Linked DNA regions of Homo sapiens. The protein of the gene in region 1 interacts with the protein of each later gene in a pairwise test. Each region holds a gene or a part of one and is shown in the gene's direction. Other genes may lie near its edges.

Evidence for each region. Proteins that work in one complex are often made in the same cells at the same time.
Region 2: the proteins of FAM13B (region 1) and SAMHD1 interact in a two-hybrid assay, tested with the Homo sapiens proteins (one study listed by BioGRID).

The regions. Positions count from the first base shown.
Region 1 is NC_000005.10:137,953,053-137,960,081, reverse strand, and holds part of FAM13B (protein FAM13B), read left to right. Parts: intron 1-318; coding exon 319-466; intron 467-3,539; coding exon 3,540-3,605; intron 3,606-5,705; coding exon 5,706-5,916; intron 5,917-6,592; exon of another isoform or gene 6,593-6,616; coding exon 6,617-6,746; intron 6,747-7,029.
Region 2 is NC_000020.11:36,941,704-36,948,732, reverse strand, and holds part of SAMHD1 (deoxynucleoside triphosphate triphosphohydrolase SAMHD1), read left to right. Parts: intron 1-1,928; coding exon 1,929-1,995; intron 1,996-7,029.

The DNA.
Region 1 (7,029 bases):
GTTTAAAGATTTAAATATAAATACTCTTACCAAATATTTTACAGTTAAACAGCAACTTAATTTGCCACTTTTGGTTACAAGAGACTTGGTTGTGAAAACACTTTCCTGAATTTGGGATCCAAACTTGTCTTCCAATAAGACATATTCTAAAACTGCATGTTTATATTTGAAAATAGTTTGCACAGTGGGAGTGGGACAGTTGGCTGTATAGGCACAGTAAACTAATGAAGACTACACTTGGATATGTGCTGGATGTGTTTAAGCTGGGTGTGAAAAGCTTCCGTAGTTGTGAAATATATTCTTTATTTTAAAATACAGGATTCTAGTAGCAAGATATGTGATTTGAATGCCAACACTGAATCAGAAGTACCAGGAGGTCAGAGTGTTGGTGTTCAAGGGGAAGCAGCGTGTGTCAGTATTCCACATTTAGATCTGAAGAATGTTTCTGATGGTGATAAATGGGAAGGTAATTTTACCCACACGCATTATTTTCCTGATAATGTTACTTGTAACCGAAATTACCCTAAGCAATGATAAGACTACAGCCCTTTTCTGGATAACCTTATTCATCTTGATCTTCTGTTCTCCCTTTCATGTAAGATGAACAAGTGGGTGTTTTTAGTGAAACACACTGAGATTTTGGGGCAGCATCTCATATGAACTAGAAGTTCTTGTCTGATCCATCAACAGCTTTGAAAATGGATGTTAGAACTGATTTTTTTAAAAAGTCACCCAGCATACGTTTTTGTTAATATTTAAATCAGGTGCTATCTCCTAGTCTTTGGAAGCCCAGTATGTTAAGGCTTAGGGATCTCACCAGTTTAAGCAGAGCGTGTATAATTACCTTGTCCTTAGTATCATCAGTAGTACTTTTTTGAAAAATGACCTTCAAGGGTACTTCTAAACAAATATTGTACCATATTCCTGTATTTCTGTCTTAGGTTATGAAGGTATGGTGCAGGGGACTCTAAAAATTTGCACAAAGGAGAGAAGTTAAAATTTAACAAGCAAACAACATGGGTATATGCATTTCTCAAAACTCAGCAAATACATAGATTTTTGTGTTTCTTTGTATATAAAGTTCTCTTTTTACTTCAAGAGGATAAAAAACTGTAAACAAATGCTGAACTTCAGTGGATGATTTGCATGCTGGAGTGTTTATGGGGAAATTTACTGATACCTGCAGTTTACTCTGAAATCCATGAAAAAAATAAGATGGTTAATGGGATGGATAAATGTTATAAAGCAAGTATAGTAGAATGTTAATGGTAGATTGTGATTGGTATATGGATATTCAGTGTAAAGTTCTTTCAATTTTGCTATGTATTTGTAAACTTTCAAATAAAATGTTGAGTGGGGGTGGGAATCAAGCAATAAATTTGGATCTAGGAGTTTTTCTGGATCATACACTTTGGTAAAGAGACAATGAGATAACTCAAGAATCTTAAGGATAGTTACATATTCATTCACTTGGATGAAGATCCCTGGGTTGTCTCACCTTTGGCAAGTATCTGTTGACATACACTGGCAATAACAGGAATTCTAATGCCAGTGCCACGGACTCCTTTTGGCACTGTTTAAGTGTACTCACCTGATCGCAAATGGAGTGTGTGTGGGTCTTGTTTTTTTTTTTAAGGTCTAGGCATTTTTTTTTAAGAGCCCCAACCAAGTCATTGTCTGTGCCAATTTTTATTGCCATCTCCTCCCCACCCTCCTTTTTATATAGGTCTAGATGTTTGGCATGCCCAGTGGCATATTATCTGTTTTAACTTAGACTAAATTAGAAAGTTGTCTTTAATTTGCTTTGTTCTGGGTTATTCAGGACATCTGGAATTTATGAAGATGCTTCCCAGTGTTGGGGGATATGTTAGCATACTGGTGGCAGTTGAAGATTAAATGTTCTTTTTTGTTATTTATTGTGGCTGAAATAAAAGGAATGGTGGTCGACAGAGCATCCCTTGCAGCATTGCTAGGAAATGAGTCTTCAAAGGAAGCAGCTTGGATTCTGATAAAGCACTTTTGTTTCTTCCTATTAGAAGATGCAGATAAATAGTTCTTTATGATCTTTGGCCTGGGAGTCCTGATTAAATTTTAAACATAGAAGAATAATTGTTTTTCATTGTCTGAAGAGGATAGACCTTCTCTGTCTAGCGTCAGCGTTCTTGAGTCTCCCTGAAAGAGAACCTGATACTGGACTGTCTTTTTTTTCCATGTCAGAATCCAGCACCTATACCTTGGTATAGATAAAGGAGGTAACCTGTAGGCTGCTGATGCCTGATTTTCAGTGCCTGAGCTGCCCTGGTTCAACAGCCTAAACAAGTCTATGTAGGTCCCCTACTTGTTCTTCCAGAAATAGGGGTCCGCAACTTTCAGAAAGCCGACAGTTACAGACACCTGAGCGAACTTCCCAGCCATGAACTGTGCATGTGCTTTGTAGAGTGGCTGTTTGTAGACCATGTTGTTTCTTCTAACTTTGTCACTAATGCAAACATTGATTGGAGTTAGGATATTCCTCCAATTTTTTTTTTTTTTTTTTTTTTTGAGACGGAGTTTTGCTCTTGTTGCCCAGGCTGGAGTGCAGTGGGGCGATCTCAGCTCACCGCAACTTCCGCCTCGCAGGTTCAAGCAATTCTCCTGCCTCAGCCTCCTGAGTAGCTGGGATTACAGACATGTGCCACTACACCCGGCTAATTTTGTATTTTAGTAGAGACGGAGTTTCTCTGTGTTGGTCAGGCTGGTCTCAAACTCCCGGCCTCGGGTGATCCGCCCGCCTTGGCCTCCCAAAGTGCTGAGATTACAGGTGTGAGCCACCGTGCCCGGCCAGGAGTTAGGATATTCTAAATGAAAAAGTCTTATTTATTTAAGAGACCAACTTACTTTAGACCCTGGATACCTTGGAATCAGACATGCTTTGTTTGATGTGACTCTTTGTAGAGAAGTGGGATGACTCCAAATAGAGCCCTATGTCACTATTCCTAAGTACATAGTTTCTGTTTTGTTTTTTCCTCAAAGGATAAGAAAAATAGCAGAATGCAGTAGTAGTTAGCAAGCAGGTAGCACATGACTGTCACCAGTATGAATTTGTAGCAGCTGTTTGCAAAGTTTTGACTTTTAATGGAAGTGGATACCATCTTCAGATTCTCTCCTGCTAACTCTGGAATGAAATGCAGTAGGATTTTTTCAAAGAGCAAACTAAGGGAGATATTTTCCTTTAAAATCATTTACACTGAAAAGCTTCAAACAGTACCTGCTTAAGAATTTCCATTTCTTCAGTTTTATGTTTGAGTTTTAATAAAATAGCACGACTTTGAGTTTTCCCCCCCCTTTTTTGCATTGCTTGCTGAAATGGAAATGTTATGTTTGTGTTTGTTAAAATCTAGTTAGTAGTGATTTCTTTTAATAACGTTTTTGAACAGAATGCCTAACTGGTTTTAGGGAAATGTTTTTGGTATCTTTGGCTTTGTGTTATGTGTATGGTTTGTTCTGACTGTGCTGTGTGTTCACTTTAGTATTTTTTGCCATTTTTTCCATTTTATTAGCGTCATGCCCTATCACTTTTCCCCTCATTGATTTCAAAACAATGCATCTGCAGAGAGATGGGGAGGGTAAGTATGGTTCACCATAGTTTAGTTTTTTTGCCTTTTATGGTTCACTTTGTTTGTCTTTTTATTAAGCCCTTCTCCTGCTGTCCCCATATCTTAGGAAAACTGTTCTGGGTTCAAAGTGAACCCAGAAAAAATTGCTATTACTTTTGTCTTTTCTTAAAATAGGATATTTCTCATAAAATGTTTACTACCAGTTACTTATTTGCTGGGGCACAGGTACAAGGGTTGCTTTGAAAATCACTTTATTGTTGGGTTTATTGTGGGATTGCACGCTTTGTACCCAATTTTTAATTCTCAGATTGATCTGGGCTTCAAAAACAAACTAAATTATGTTCTTATTATTTTGAAAGGAAAGGTAATGCTTTAAATTGCTAATGCATAAAGTTAAACTAAATTACTAAAGCAGCGATCTTAGCTATTGTGTGAGGAAAAAGAAAACATCACTCTTGAATTTTGACACTGTCAAGCCCTCTTTGCATTCATTTTCGCTATTGCTAATAGCCAATAGCATCAAAATTTTTAAGTGTAGTTACTTAAAAAAAAGCTGCCGGGCGTGGTGGCTCACGCTTGTAATCCTAGCACTTTGGGAGGCCGAGGCAGGCGGATCACTTGAGGTCAGGAGTTCGTAACCAGCCTGGCCAACATGGTGAAACCCCATCTCAACTAAAAATACAAATATTAGCCAAACATGGTAGCAGGCGCCTGTAACACCAGCTCCTTGGGAGGCTGAGGCAGGAGAATCGCTTGAACCCAGGAGGCAGAGGTTGCAGTGAGTCAAGATCGTGCCACTGCACTCCAGCCTGGGTGACAGAGCAAGACTCCATCTCTAAAAAAATAAATAAATAAATAAAAAGCTAATGTGTAGATGGGAATTTTTTCTTTCCCTCCTGTGCTTAATGTTGTATTTGGGGTATATTTGTGGATTGTGTGTATGATCTGTATGTGTTCTATATGTAATCAAACATTATATTTGCAAAGACATCAAATGTATTAACATAGCTTTCATTTGAGGGCATACAGGATAACTGCAGTAAAGTAAATGTGCTTAAGAAGGCCTAGTGCTATTAAGTTTTGTCTTAGTAACACTGTTGGGTATTATTAAAATATATATTATACATAGGAATCCTGTAGCAGAAGATAACCATCACAGTTTAATGTTAGAGGCCAGGTGCTGTCAGGTGAATTAGCTCCTCCTTTGGGAATATTAGAATTCTTCTAAAGTCAGAGAACTCCATTTGGTGAGTGTTCCATGTAACATGGGGAACAGCTCCCACTTTTTCTTAATATAGCTATTTGACAGTGAGGGACAGGTCATACACCTGACATCATTTGGCTTTTAAATTAAATTTCTAAGAAAGAACTGTTCAGTTCTTGCTGTTTCTGGTTTTCCCCTACTTGAAAACTAACATTTGTAAATAAAACATCTTTTGAAAAGTTCAGAATTATATTAAATAACATCTTTAGAATTAAATTGAGTTTTAAAGAGCTTGACAATGTCCTTTCTTGCTTTGCCACTGGGTTCAGAAATTTAAATTTATATGGAAATAGAACTCTGGGCTGGGCACAGTGGCTCATGCCTGTAATCCCTGCACACTGAGAGGCTGAGATGGGAGGATCACTTGAGCCTAGCAGTTCAAGACCAGCCTGGCCAACATAGTGAGACCTCGTCTCTACCAACAACAAAAAAAAGAAAATTAGTCAGGCGTAGTGGCAAGCGCCTGTAGTCCCAGCTACTCGGGAGGCTAAGGTGGGAGGATTGCTTGAGCCTAGAAGGTCGAGGCTGCAGTGAGCCACCATCATGACACTGAATTCCAGAGCCTGGGCAGCAGAGCGAGACCTTATCTCAAAAAAAAAAAATTGAACTCTGGACTAAAAAGTGAAGCTTGAATAATTTTAAACTATAGTAGGCTTTATGAAGATTATATATATATATATATACACACACACATGTATGTGTGTGTGTGTGTGTGTATGTGTGTATGTATATATGAACCACTACATAATGATATGATTTAAGGAACACATAGCTGATATTTTGTGACTTTTTTCCCACGTGGAATCAAGAGACCCATGGTACTATTCTTTGTGTTTGTTTTATAGAGCCATTTCCTGCTTTTAAGTCTTGGCAGGAGGACTCTGAGTCTGGAGAAGCTCAGCTGTCTCCACAAGCTGGAAGAATGAATCATCACCCCTTGGAAGAGGACTGTCCTCCAGTATTATCACACCGCAGTTTAGATTTTGGTCAAAGCCAGCGTTTCCTACATGATCCAGAAAAGTTGGATTCCTCATCTAAAGCACTGTCTTTTACTAGGTATATGATTTTTATGTACTTACAAGAGGCAATTCCTATTATGTACCCAAGTCTTTTGAGAGATTTAGTCTTCCAGCCTGGGCTTCAATAGTGAAACTCCATCTCAAAAAAAAAAAAAAAAAAAGAGAGAGATTGAGTCTTCTAGACATAGAATTCAGAGCTTTCTCACTGATTTTATAGAGCACATTTTTGTAAGTTTTGGTTTTTTTTGACCCTGCTGAGTTCAGTGAGGTGTAGCGTTTGAAGTTTGCTCTCAAATAGACATTTTCTCGTGGTGTATTATTCATTTATTTATGTATTCATCGCTGAAATACAGAGCTCTGTAAAGGAAGCAGCAAATGGTGCTGAGCAGTTCCTAATCTTTTTTTATCAAAGCTTTAAATGGATCTGAATGTCAAAAACTTTGTTATGCAGTTTGAACAGTTACAAGAGCTCTGAGCTGCTAGGTATCTTTGTTTCTTTGCTGCCTTTGTCCAAACCAGTTTTAAATGATTCCAAACTGTTTTCATCACCACTTGTATTAGCTAAATTTGTGGTCTGTAACATTACAGTGTTTCTTTATACTACCTGTCCTTTAGTGTTAGGGACTTATTTTTACCTTTAAGATTTACTTATTGCTAATAGTGCCATGTCAGGGCAATAAGAGATACAGTGTTGGTACTTGAAAATTTAACAGTGTTGGCCTTTTGTTTTAATTCAGAATTCGAAGATCATCCTTTAGTTCAAAAGATGAAAAGAGAGAGGACAGAACACCTTATCAGCTGGTCAAGAAACTTCAGAAGAAAATCAGACAATTTGAGGAACAGTTTGAAAGGGAAAGAAATAGCAAGGTAGGTTTGTAGCATTCCCCAGAGTGAGCTTAATCTAATATTAGAACTGAGAGGATAGTTTTTCAAAAGCATTAGTTTAGATCTGTGTGAGAAAGGTAACAAATCTGAGATACCCGGAGGAACAGTGATCATGTAGATCTGAGATTATATAACTCCTTGGTCTCCTGACTTCCAGGCCAGTATTCTTGCCATTTGCACCGTGGCATCTTTATATTTCCACTGGCAAAGCAGCTTTTAGAATTTTTAAAGCAAATACTTTACATTGACAAATCATGTTACTGCT
Region 2 (7,029 bases), on another chromosome or scaffold:
ACCACACCTGGCTAATTTTTGTATTTTTAGTAGAGATGGGGTTTCACCATGTTGGCCAGGATGGTCTTAATCTCTTGACCTGATGATTCACACGCCTTGGCCTCCCAAAGTGCTGGGATTACAGGTGTGAGCCACCACGCCCGACCAGCAATAGTCTTTCTTTCTAATAAAGTTTCTCTTGGCCGGGCACGGTGGCTCACGCCTGTAATCCCAGCACTTTGGAAGGCCGAAGCAGGTAGATCACCTGAGGTCAGGAATTCAAGCCCAGCCTGGCCAACATGGTGAAACACCGTCTCTACTAAAAATACAAAAATTAGCCGGGCATGGTGGTATGTGCCTGTAGTCCCAGCTACTTGGGAAGCTGAGGCAGGAGAATCACTTGAACCTGGGAGGCGGAGGTTGCAGTGAGCCAAGATCCCGCCACTGCACTCCAGCCTGGGCGACCGAGTGAGACTCCATCTCGGAAAAGAAAAAAAAAGTCTCTCTTTATCTAAGTCCATTTTTTTTTTAATTTGATAAGCCAAGCACAAGGTACAGTGTCCCTTTTCTCATTATGGAATACAGCCTCACAAGAAGTCTGAAATAAGTTACTACACTCAACACATTTTACCGATGATGTATGCGAGGTCCAAAGATGTAAAGTAACTTTTCAGAGATCACACCACTACAAAAAAGAGCTAGATTTTTTAAGGTTAGGTCTTTGGACTCTAGAACTCATGTGATCTATACCTTAACAAGTATTCTCATCAAAAACCACTGGAGGCCTGGCCCAGTGGCTCATACCTATAATCCCAGCACTTTGGGAGGCCAGTGTGGGAAGATCACTTGAGCCCAAGAATTCAAGACCAGCCTGGGCAACATCAGGAGACCTCAACTTTACAAAAAATAAAAATAAAAATTAGCTAGGTGCAGTGGCACATGCCTGTGGTCCCAGCTACTCAGGAGGCTGAGGCAGGAGGATCGCTTGAGCCCAGGAGGTCAAGGCTGCAGTGAGATGTGATCGCACCACTGCACTCCAACCTGGGCAACAAGCAAAACCCTGTCTCAAAGAAAATAAAAGAAAATAGTCCAGAGTTCTGGAATTTGAGGTCAGGAAAGATTAGAATTAATTGTATAGAAAGAGAAAGGAAAAAACCCAACAACACACACACACACACACACACACACACACACACACACACCCCTCTTCCAAATCAGAGTATTGAGTGCTTTCCCAGGACACACACACACACACACACACTCACACACACACACACCTCTTCCAAATCAGAGTATTGAGTGCTTTCCCAGGACACACACACACACACACACACACACACACACACACCTCTTCCAAATCACACACACCTCTTCCAAATCAGAGTATTGAGTGCTTTCCCAGGACACACACACACACACACACACACACACACACACACACACCTCTTCCAAATCAGAGTATTGAGTGCTTTCCCAGGAGGTTTGAGAAAAATCAACACTTTAAGCACTCTTGAATTCACGGTTTTAACTTGTTAATTCTAAGAACAATAGACTTAGGTTTCCTTCCCTCCCCAACTCAAACCTTGTTAATTCTAAGAACAATAGACTTAGGTTTCCTTCCCTCCCCAACTCAAAGCTGCTGACCTGGCAAAACCCCAACAGGTAGTCGGGTTTCACTTTCCTTTTTGCAACTGGTTTTTCTTGGAACTAATTTACACAAATAATTTTGAAATTTTCACGTGATTTATCAAAAAATGCTTCTTGGTTTAGTTATTTAATTAAAATTAAGTCTTTACAAGTAGCAGATCAAAAAAGTGGTACTTGGCACAATCCATTGCCTGCAGTGGGTACTCACTTATGTGGATCTGGGTAAATGTTGGTGTATCCAAATTGAAAGAAAATGAAAAGCATATGTTGTATACATTGAATTTGTCTTTTTTCTTCCATAGAAAATGAAATCACAGGCGCATTACTGCCTTGTCTTGATGAGTCTCGTTTTGAAAATCTTGGAGTAAGGTAAGAATGAAGAAATAAATTCACGTTATAACCAAACACACTTTATCCATCTTTCAGGGACAAAGCCCAAAATCTCTGATATAAACTGTCCTCATTTTAAATCTATGAAGTGCTTTAAAACAGCAGAATCCCTTGCCTGCTGGTTTTGTTTGTTCATTTGTTTTTTGAGATAGTCTCTTGTTCACCCAGGCTGGAGTATCTCGGCTCACTGCAACCTCTGCCTCCCGGCTTCAAGTTATTCTCCTGCCTCAGCCTCCTGAGTAGCTAGGATTACAGGTGCCCACCACCATGCCCCACTAATTTTTTTTCGGTTTTTTTTTTTTTTGAGACAGAGTCTCGCTCTGTCTCCCAGGCTGGAGTGCAGTGGCGTGATCTTGGCTCACTGCAAGCTCCGCCTCCCGGGTTCATGCCATTCTCCTGCCTCAGCCTCCCGAGTAGCTGGGACTACAGGCGCCTGCCACCACGCCTGGCTACTTTTTTGTATTTTTTGGTAGACACAGGGTTTCACCATGTTAGCCAGGATGGTGTCAATCTCCTGACCTCGTGATCTGCCCGCCTCAGCCTCCCAGAGTGCTGGAATTACCGCGCCCGGCTGCCCCACTGATTTTTGTACTTTTAGTAGAGATGGGGTTTCACCATGTTGGCCAGACTGGTCTTGAACTCTTGGCCTCAAGTGATCCGCTTGCCTCGGCCTCCCAAAGTGCTGAGATTACAGGTGTGAGCCACCGCGACTGGCCACCTGCTGTTTGTTTTCGCTGTACAAATCCTATGTTTGCTATTACTGTTTATTCCTATTTTAGTTTATTTTTAATTTTATTTATTTATTTATTTATTGAGACAGAGTCTCACTCTGTCACCCAGACTGGAGTGCAATGGTGCGATCCCGGCTCACTGAACCCCCTGGGTTCAAGCCATTCTCCTGCCTCAGCTTCCTGAGTAGCTGGGATTACAGGCATGCACCACCATGCCCAGCTAAGTTTTGTATTTTTAGTAGAGACAGGGTTTCACCATGTTGGCCAGGCTGGTCTCGAACTCCTGACCTAAGGTGGTCTGGAGTTCTGACCTAAGGTGGGCCAAGGTCTGCCCACCTTGGCCTCCCAAAGTGCTGAGATTACAGGCATAAGCCACCGTGTGTGGCCTTATTCCTATTTTAAATAATGTTGCAGACAAATCTTCATCAAGTTTGTAGTGACCAACTTTTTACTCTCAAGTTCAGAATAATTGAATTATACACACTGGGAAATACATAAGAACCAATAGGGAAAAAAATGTTAGTAAGAAAATCAAGGCTACACCCCTATCTTGAGCATATTTCTAGGTTTTCCTAAAGATTGGAATATGCCCTGGTATTAGATTTAAAGACACTATGCAAAACAGGCACTTTTTAGTTGTATAATTTGGGAGAAGTCATTTAACCCTTCAGTTTCTGTACCTGTAAAATGGATAACAATAATGAGATGATGTACATAAAGTGTTGAAGCATATGATTAACGCTTAGTAAATTTTATAGATAGTGATACAGAAAATTAAAAAATTAGCCGGGTACTGTGCATGCACCTGTAGTCCCACCTACACTCAGGAGGCTGAAGCAGGAAGATCCCTTGAGCCCAGGAGTTCAAGGTTGCAGTGATCTATGATAAGCTCCTGCACTCCAGCTTGGGCAGCAGAATAAGACCCTGTCTCAGATAGGTAGGTAGGTAGATAGATACATATATACATACATACATACATAGTTACATAGATCCATCTCTGTGTATGGCTGTAGGTTCTAGGGTCTAGATTAGAGTGGGGCTCCTTTAATGATCTCAGTAGAGGATCTGGTGCTTAAATACTTCTTTTTTTTGAAGCGGAGTTTTGCTTTTGTTGCCCAGGCTGGAGTGCAATGGCACGATCTCGTCTTACCTCAACCTTCACCTCCCAGGTTCAAGTGATTCTCCTGCCTCAGCCTCCCGAGTAGCTGGGATTACAGGCATGCGCCACCATGCCCAGCTAATTTTGTATTTTTAGTAGAGACGGGGTTTCTCCATGTTAGTCAGGCTGGTCTCGAACTCCCGACCTCAGGTGATCCACCCACCTCGTCCTCCCAAAGTGCTGGGATTATAGGCGCGAGCCACTGCGACCGGCCTTAAATACTTCTTAAAATGAAGATTTTGTTTCTGTTAGAAAATTGGCAACAGTGGGGAAATATGGCCTTCTCTTCTGAAATTTTAGTTACATGTTGTTTGTGGTAACAGTAACCAAAGAATCAAAACAAAGGATTATACTGAATTACTTCCTGTGCTGTTGCTTAGTAATTGATAACAGAAGTACATTGTGAAACAAGATCACTGTAGAACATTTAACTGACTTCCAGTAAATATCCTTTGGATCAGAATCTCCAGGGACCTCATCTTAGCCCTTTCTTTTTTTTTTTTTTTTTGAGACGAAGTCTCACTCTGTTGCCCAGGCTGGAGTTCAAGTTCAGTGGTGTTCAAGTGATTCTCCTGCCTCAGCCTCCTAAGTAGCTGGGACTACTGGCATGTGCCACCATGCCCGGTTAATTTTTTGTATTTTTAGTAGAGACGGGGTTTCATCGTGTTAGCCAGGATGGTCTCAATCTCCTGACCTTGTGATCTGCCCGCCTCAGGCCTCCCAAAGTTCTTTTTTTTTTTTTTTTTTTTGAGATGGAGTCTTGCTCTGTCACTCAGGCTGGAGGGCAGTGGCGTGATCTCGGCTCACTGCAACCTCCACCTCCCAGATTCAAGTGATTCTACCACCTCAGCCTCCTGAGTAGCTGGGACTACAGGTGTGTGCCACCATGCCCGGCTAATTTTTGTATTTTTAGTAGAGACAGGGTTTCACTATGTTGGCCAGGGTGGTCTTGAACTCCCGACCTCATGATCTGCCTGCCTCAGCCTCCCAAAGTGCTGGGATTACAGGCGTGAGCCACTGTCCCCGGCATGACTCTTTCATAACCACATTTCAGCCCTCTCAGTCCTCTCAAAGTCCCCTTTACTACTTGTTTCTTGTACATAATAGTTGCTTACTATTTGACCTGAATGGAATTTGTTCTAATACAGTCTTTCTTTTCAAGGGAGCCATGTGCATGTTTGTGGACCCAAGTGCTATTGATTCATTCAGTGAATATTTTTGGAAAGCTCACTATGTACTAGGAATTCTTCCATGAATTTGGGGCACATGAGTGAACAAAACAGACAAAGGAACACTATATTGCAGTGTTCCAGAAGGAACACTATATTGCACGTCTCTGTGCCCCACCTCATAACTCAAATTCTGTAGGACTCCTTAGAGCTGTATTGTTCTGTATAATAACAACTAGCTTCACGTTTAAATTAATTAGAAGTAAATTAAGTAAAAAATTCCTCAGTTACACTAGCCATATTTCAAGTACTTAGTAGTCACTATGGCTAACGGCTACTGTGTTGGACAGAGCAGATATAGAACATTTCCATCATCGCAGAAAGTTCTACTAGACAGTGCTGCCTTACAGGTTGCCAGTGGGATTAGCCCTACCCACCACTCCATCCAGTTGCTCACAGTAGTACCAATGCAATCAACTTGTTAATGGACCTTTGTACTGTTTTTACCTAATTTCCTATTTTACCCTCCCTAGACCCCCCAATCCCTGTGCCCAGAGTTCACCCCAAGATTAATTACTTGCAAGCTCTTATCCTGGACCCTGCTTTCTAGGGAGAATCCAGCTTAGACAAGCACTCCTAGTAGGCCCTCAATTTTATGAACAACCATTGATTTATAAAGGTTTTTTTAACAAGTAAGAAACAGGCCAGGCGTGGTGGCTCAGGCCTTTAATCCCAGCACTTTGGGAGGCCGAGGCGGGCGGATCACGAGGTCAGGAGATCGAGACCATCCTGGCTAACATGGTGAAACCCTGTCTCTACTAAAAATACAAAAACAAAAAAGAAATTAGCTGGGCATGGTGGCGGGCGGCTGTAGTCCCAGCTACTCGGGAGGCTGAGGCGGGAGAATGGCGTGAACCCGGGAGGTGGAGCTTGCAGTGAGCCGAGATCACGTCACTGCACTCCAGCCTGGGCAACAGAGTAAGACTCCATTTCAAAAAAAAAAAGAAGTTAGATAGAAACATTGTCACGTTAAATATACATGTCAATTGTAAGAAGCATTAAATTTCAGAAATGTTGGAACACAGGAATAAAATTCTTTCATAATCTAGATATCCTGGCCCATGACTTCTTTAAATCTTTATTTAATGCCATGTCCTTTGCTAAACAAAACAACCCCCTGGTTTTGGGTGGTTTTATATACTCTAATCAGTGATTTTGGTTTTGTTTTGTTTTGTTTTTGAGTTGGAGTTTTGCTCTTGTTGCCCAGGCTGGAGTGCAATGGCGCCATCTCGGCTCACCGCAATCTCCGCCTCCCGGGTTCAAGCAATTCTCCTGCCTCAGCCTCCCGAGTAGCTGGGATTACAGGCATGCGCCACCACCACGCCTGGCTAATTTTGTATTTTTAGAAGAGACGGGGTTTCTCCATGTTAGTCAGGCTTGTCTCGAGCTCCCAACCTCAGGTGATCCACCCACCTCGGCCTCCCAAAGTGCTGGGATTACAGGTGTGAGCCACTGCGCCCGGCCGATTTTGGGGTTTTAAGCGATGAATACCAAATGTCAGTTTAGGAAAATATTAAGTGGTCACGGGGTTAGTTTAGGTTTGATATTTTATGCTATGACTCCGGTTTTGCTCAACTATGTGACTCCCCTTAAACTAAGTCCACCTATAAGTACTTCTGAAAGCCTGGCTTTACACTGTGCTTGTTATGTCAAACTGATGAGGAGGATAGGGGAATAGGAAAACACGAAATTTGCTGCTTTAATTTATCAGCTGTAATAATGCTTCTGTGTATCCCAAGATATTATTCTTAAGTGTTCTTATTACCATGGGTTCAGTGTGTACCATAGAGGCCAATGTAGTGCCTCTGACTCCCAGTCTATGTATGACTTGTAGAAAGATACTTTTTTTTCAATCTGGTTATCTAGTAGATCAGTAAAACCCTTTGCCTGCACT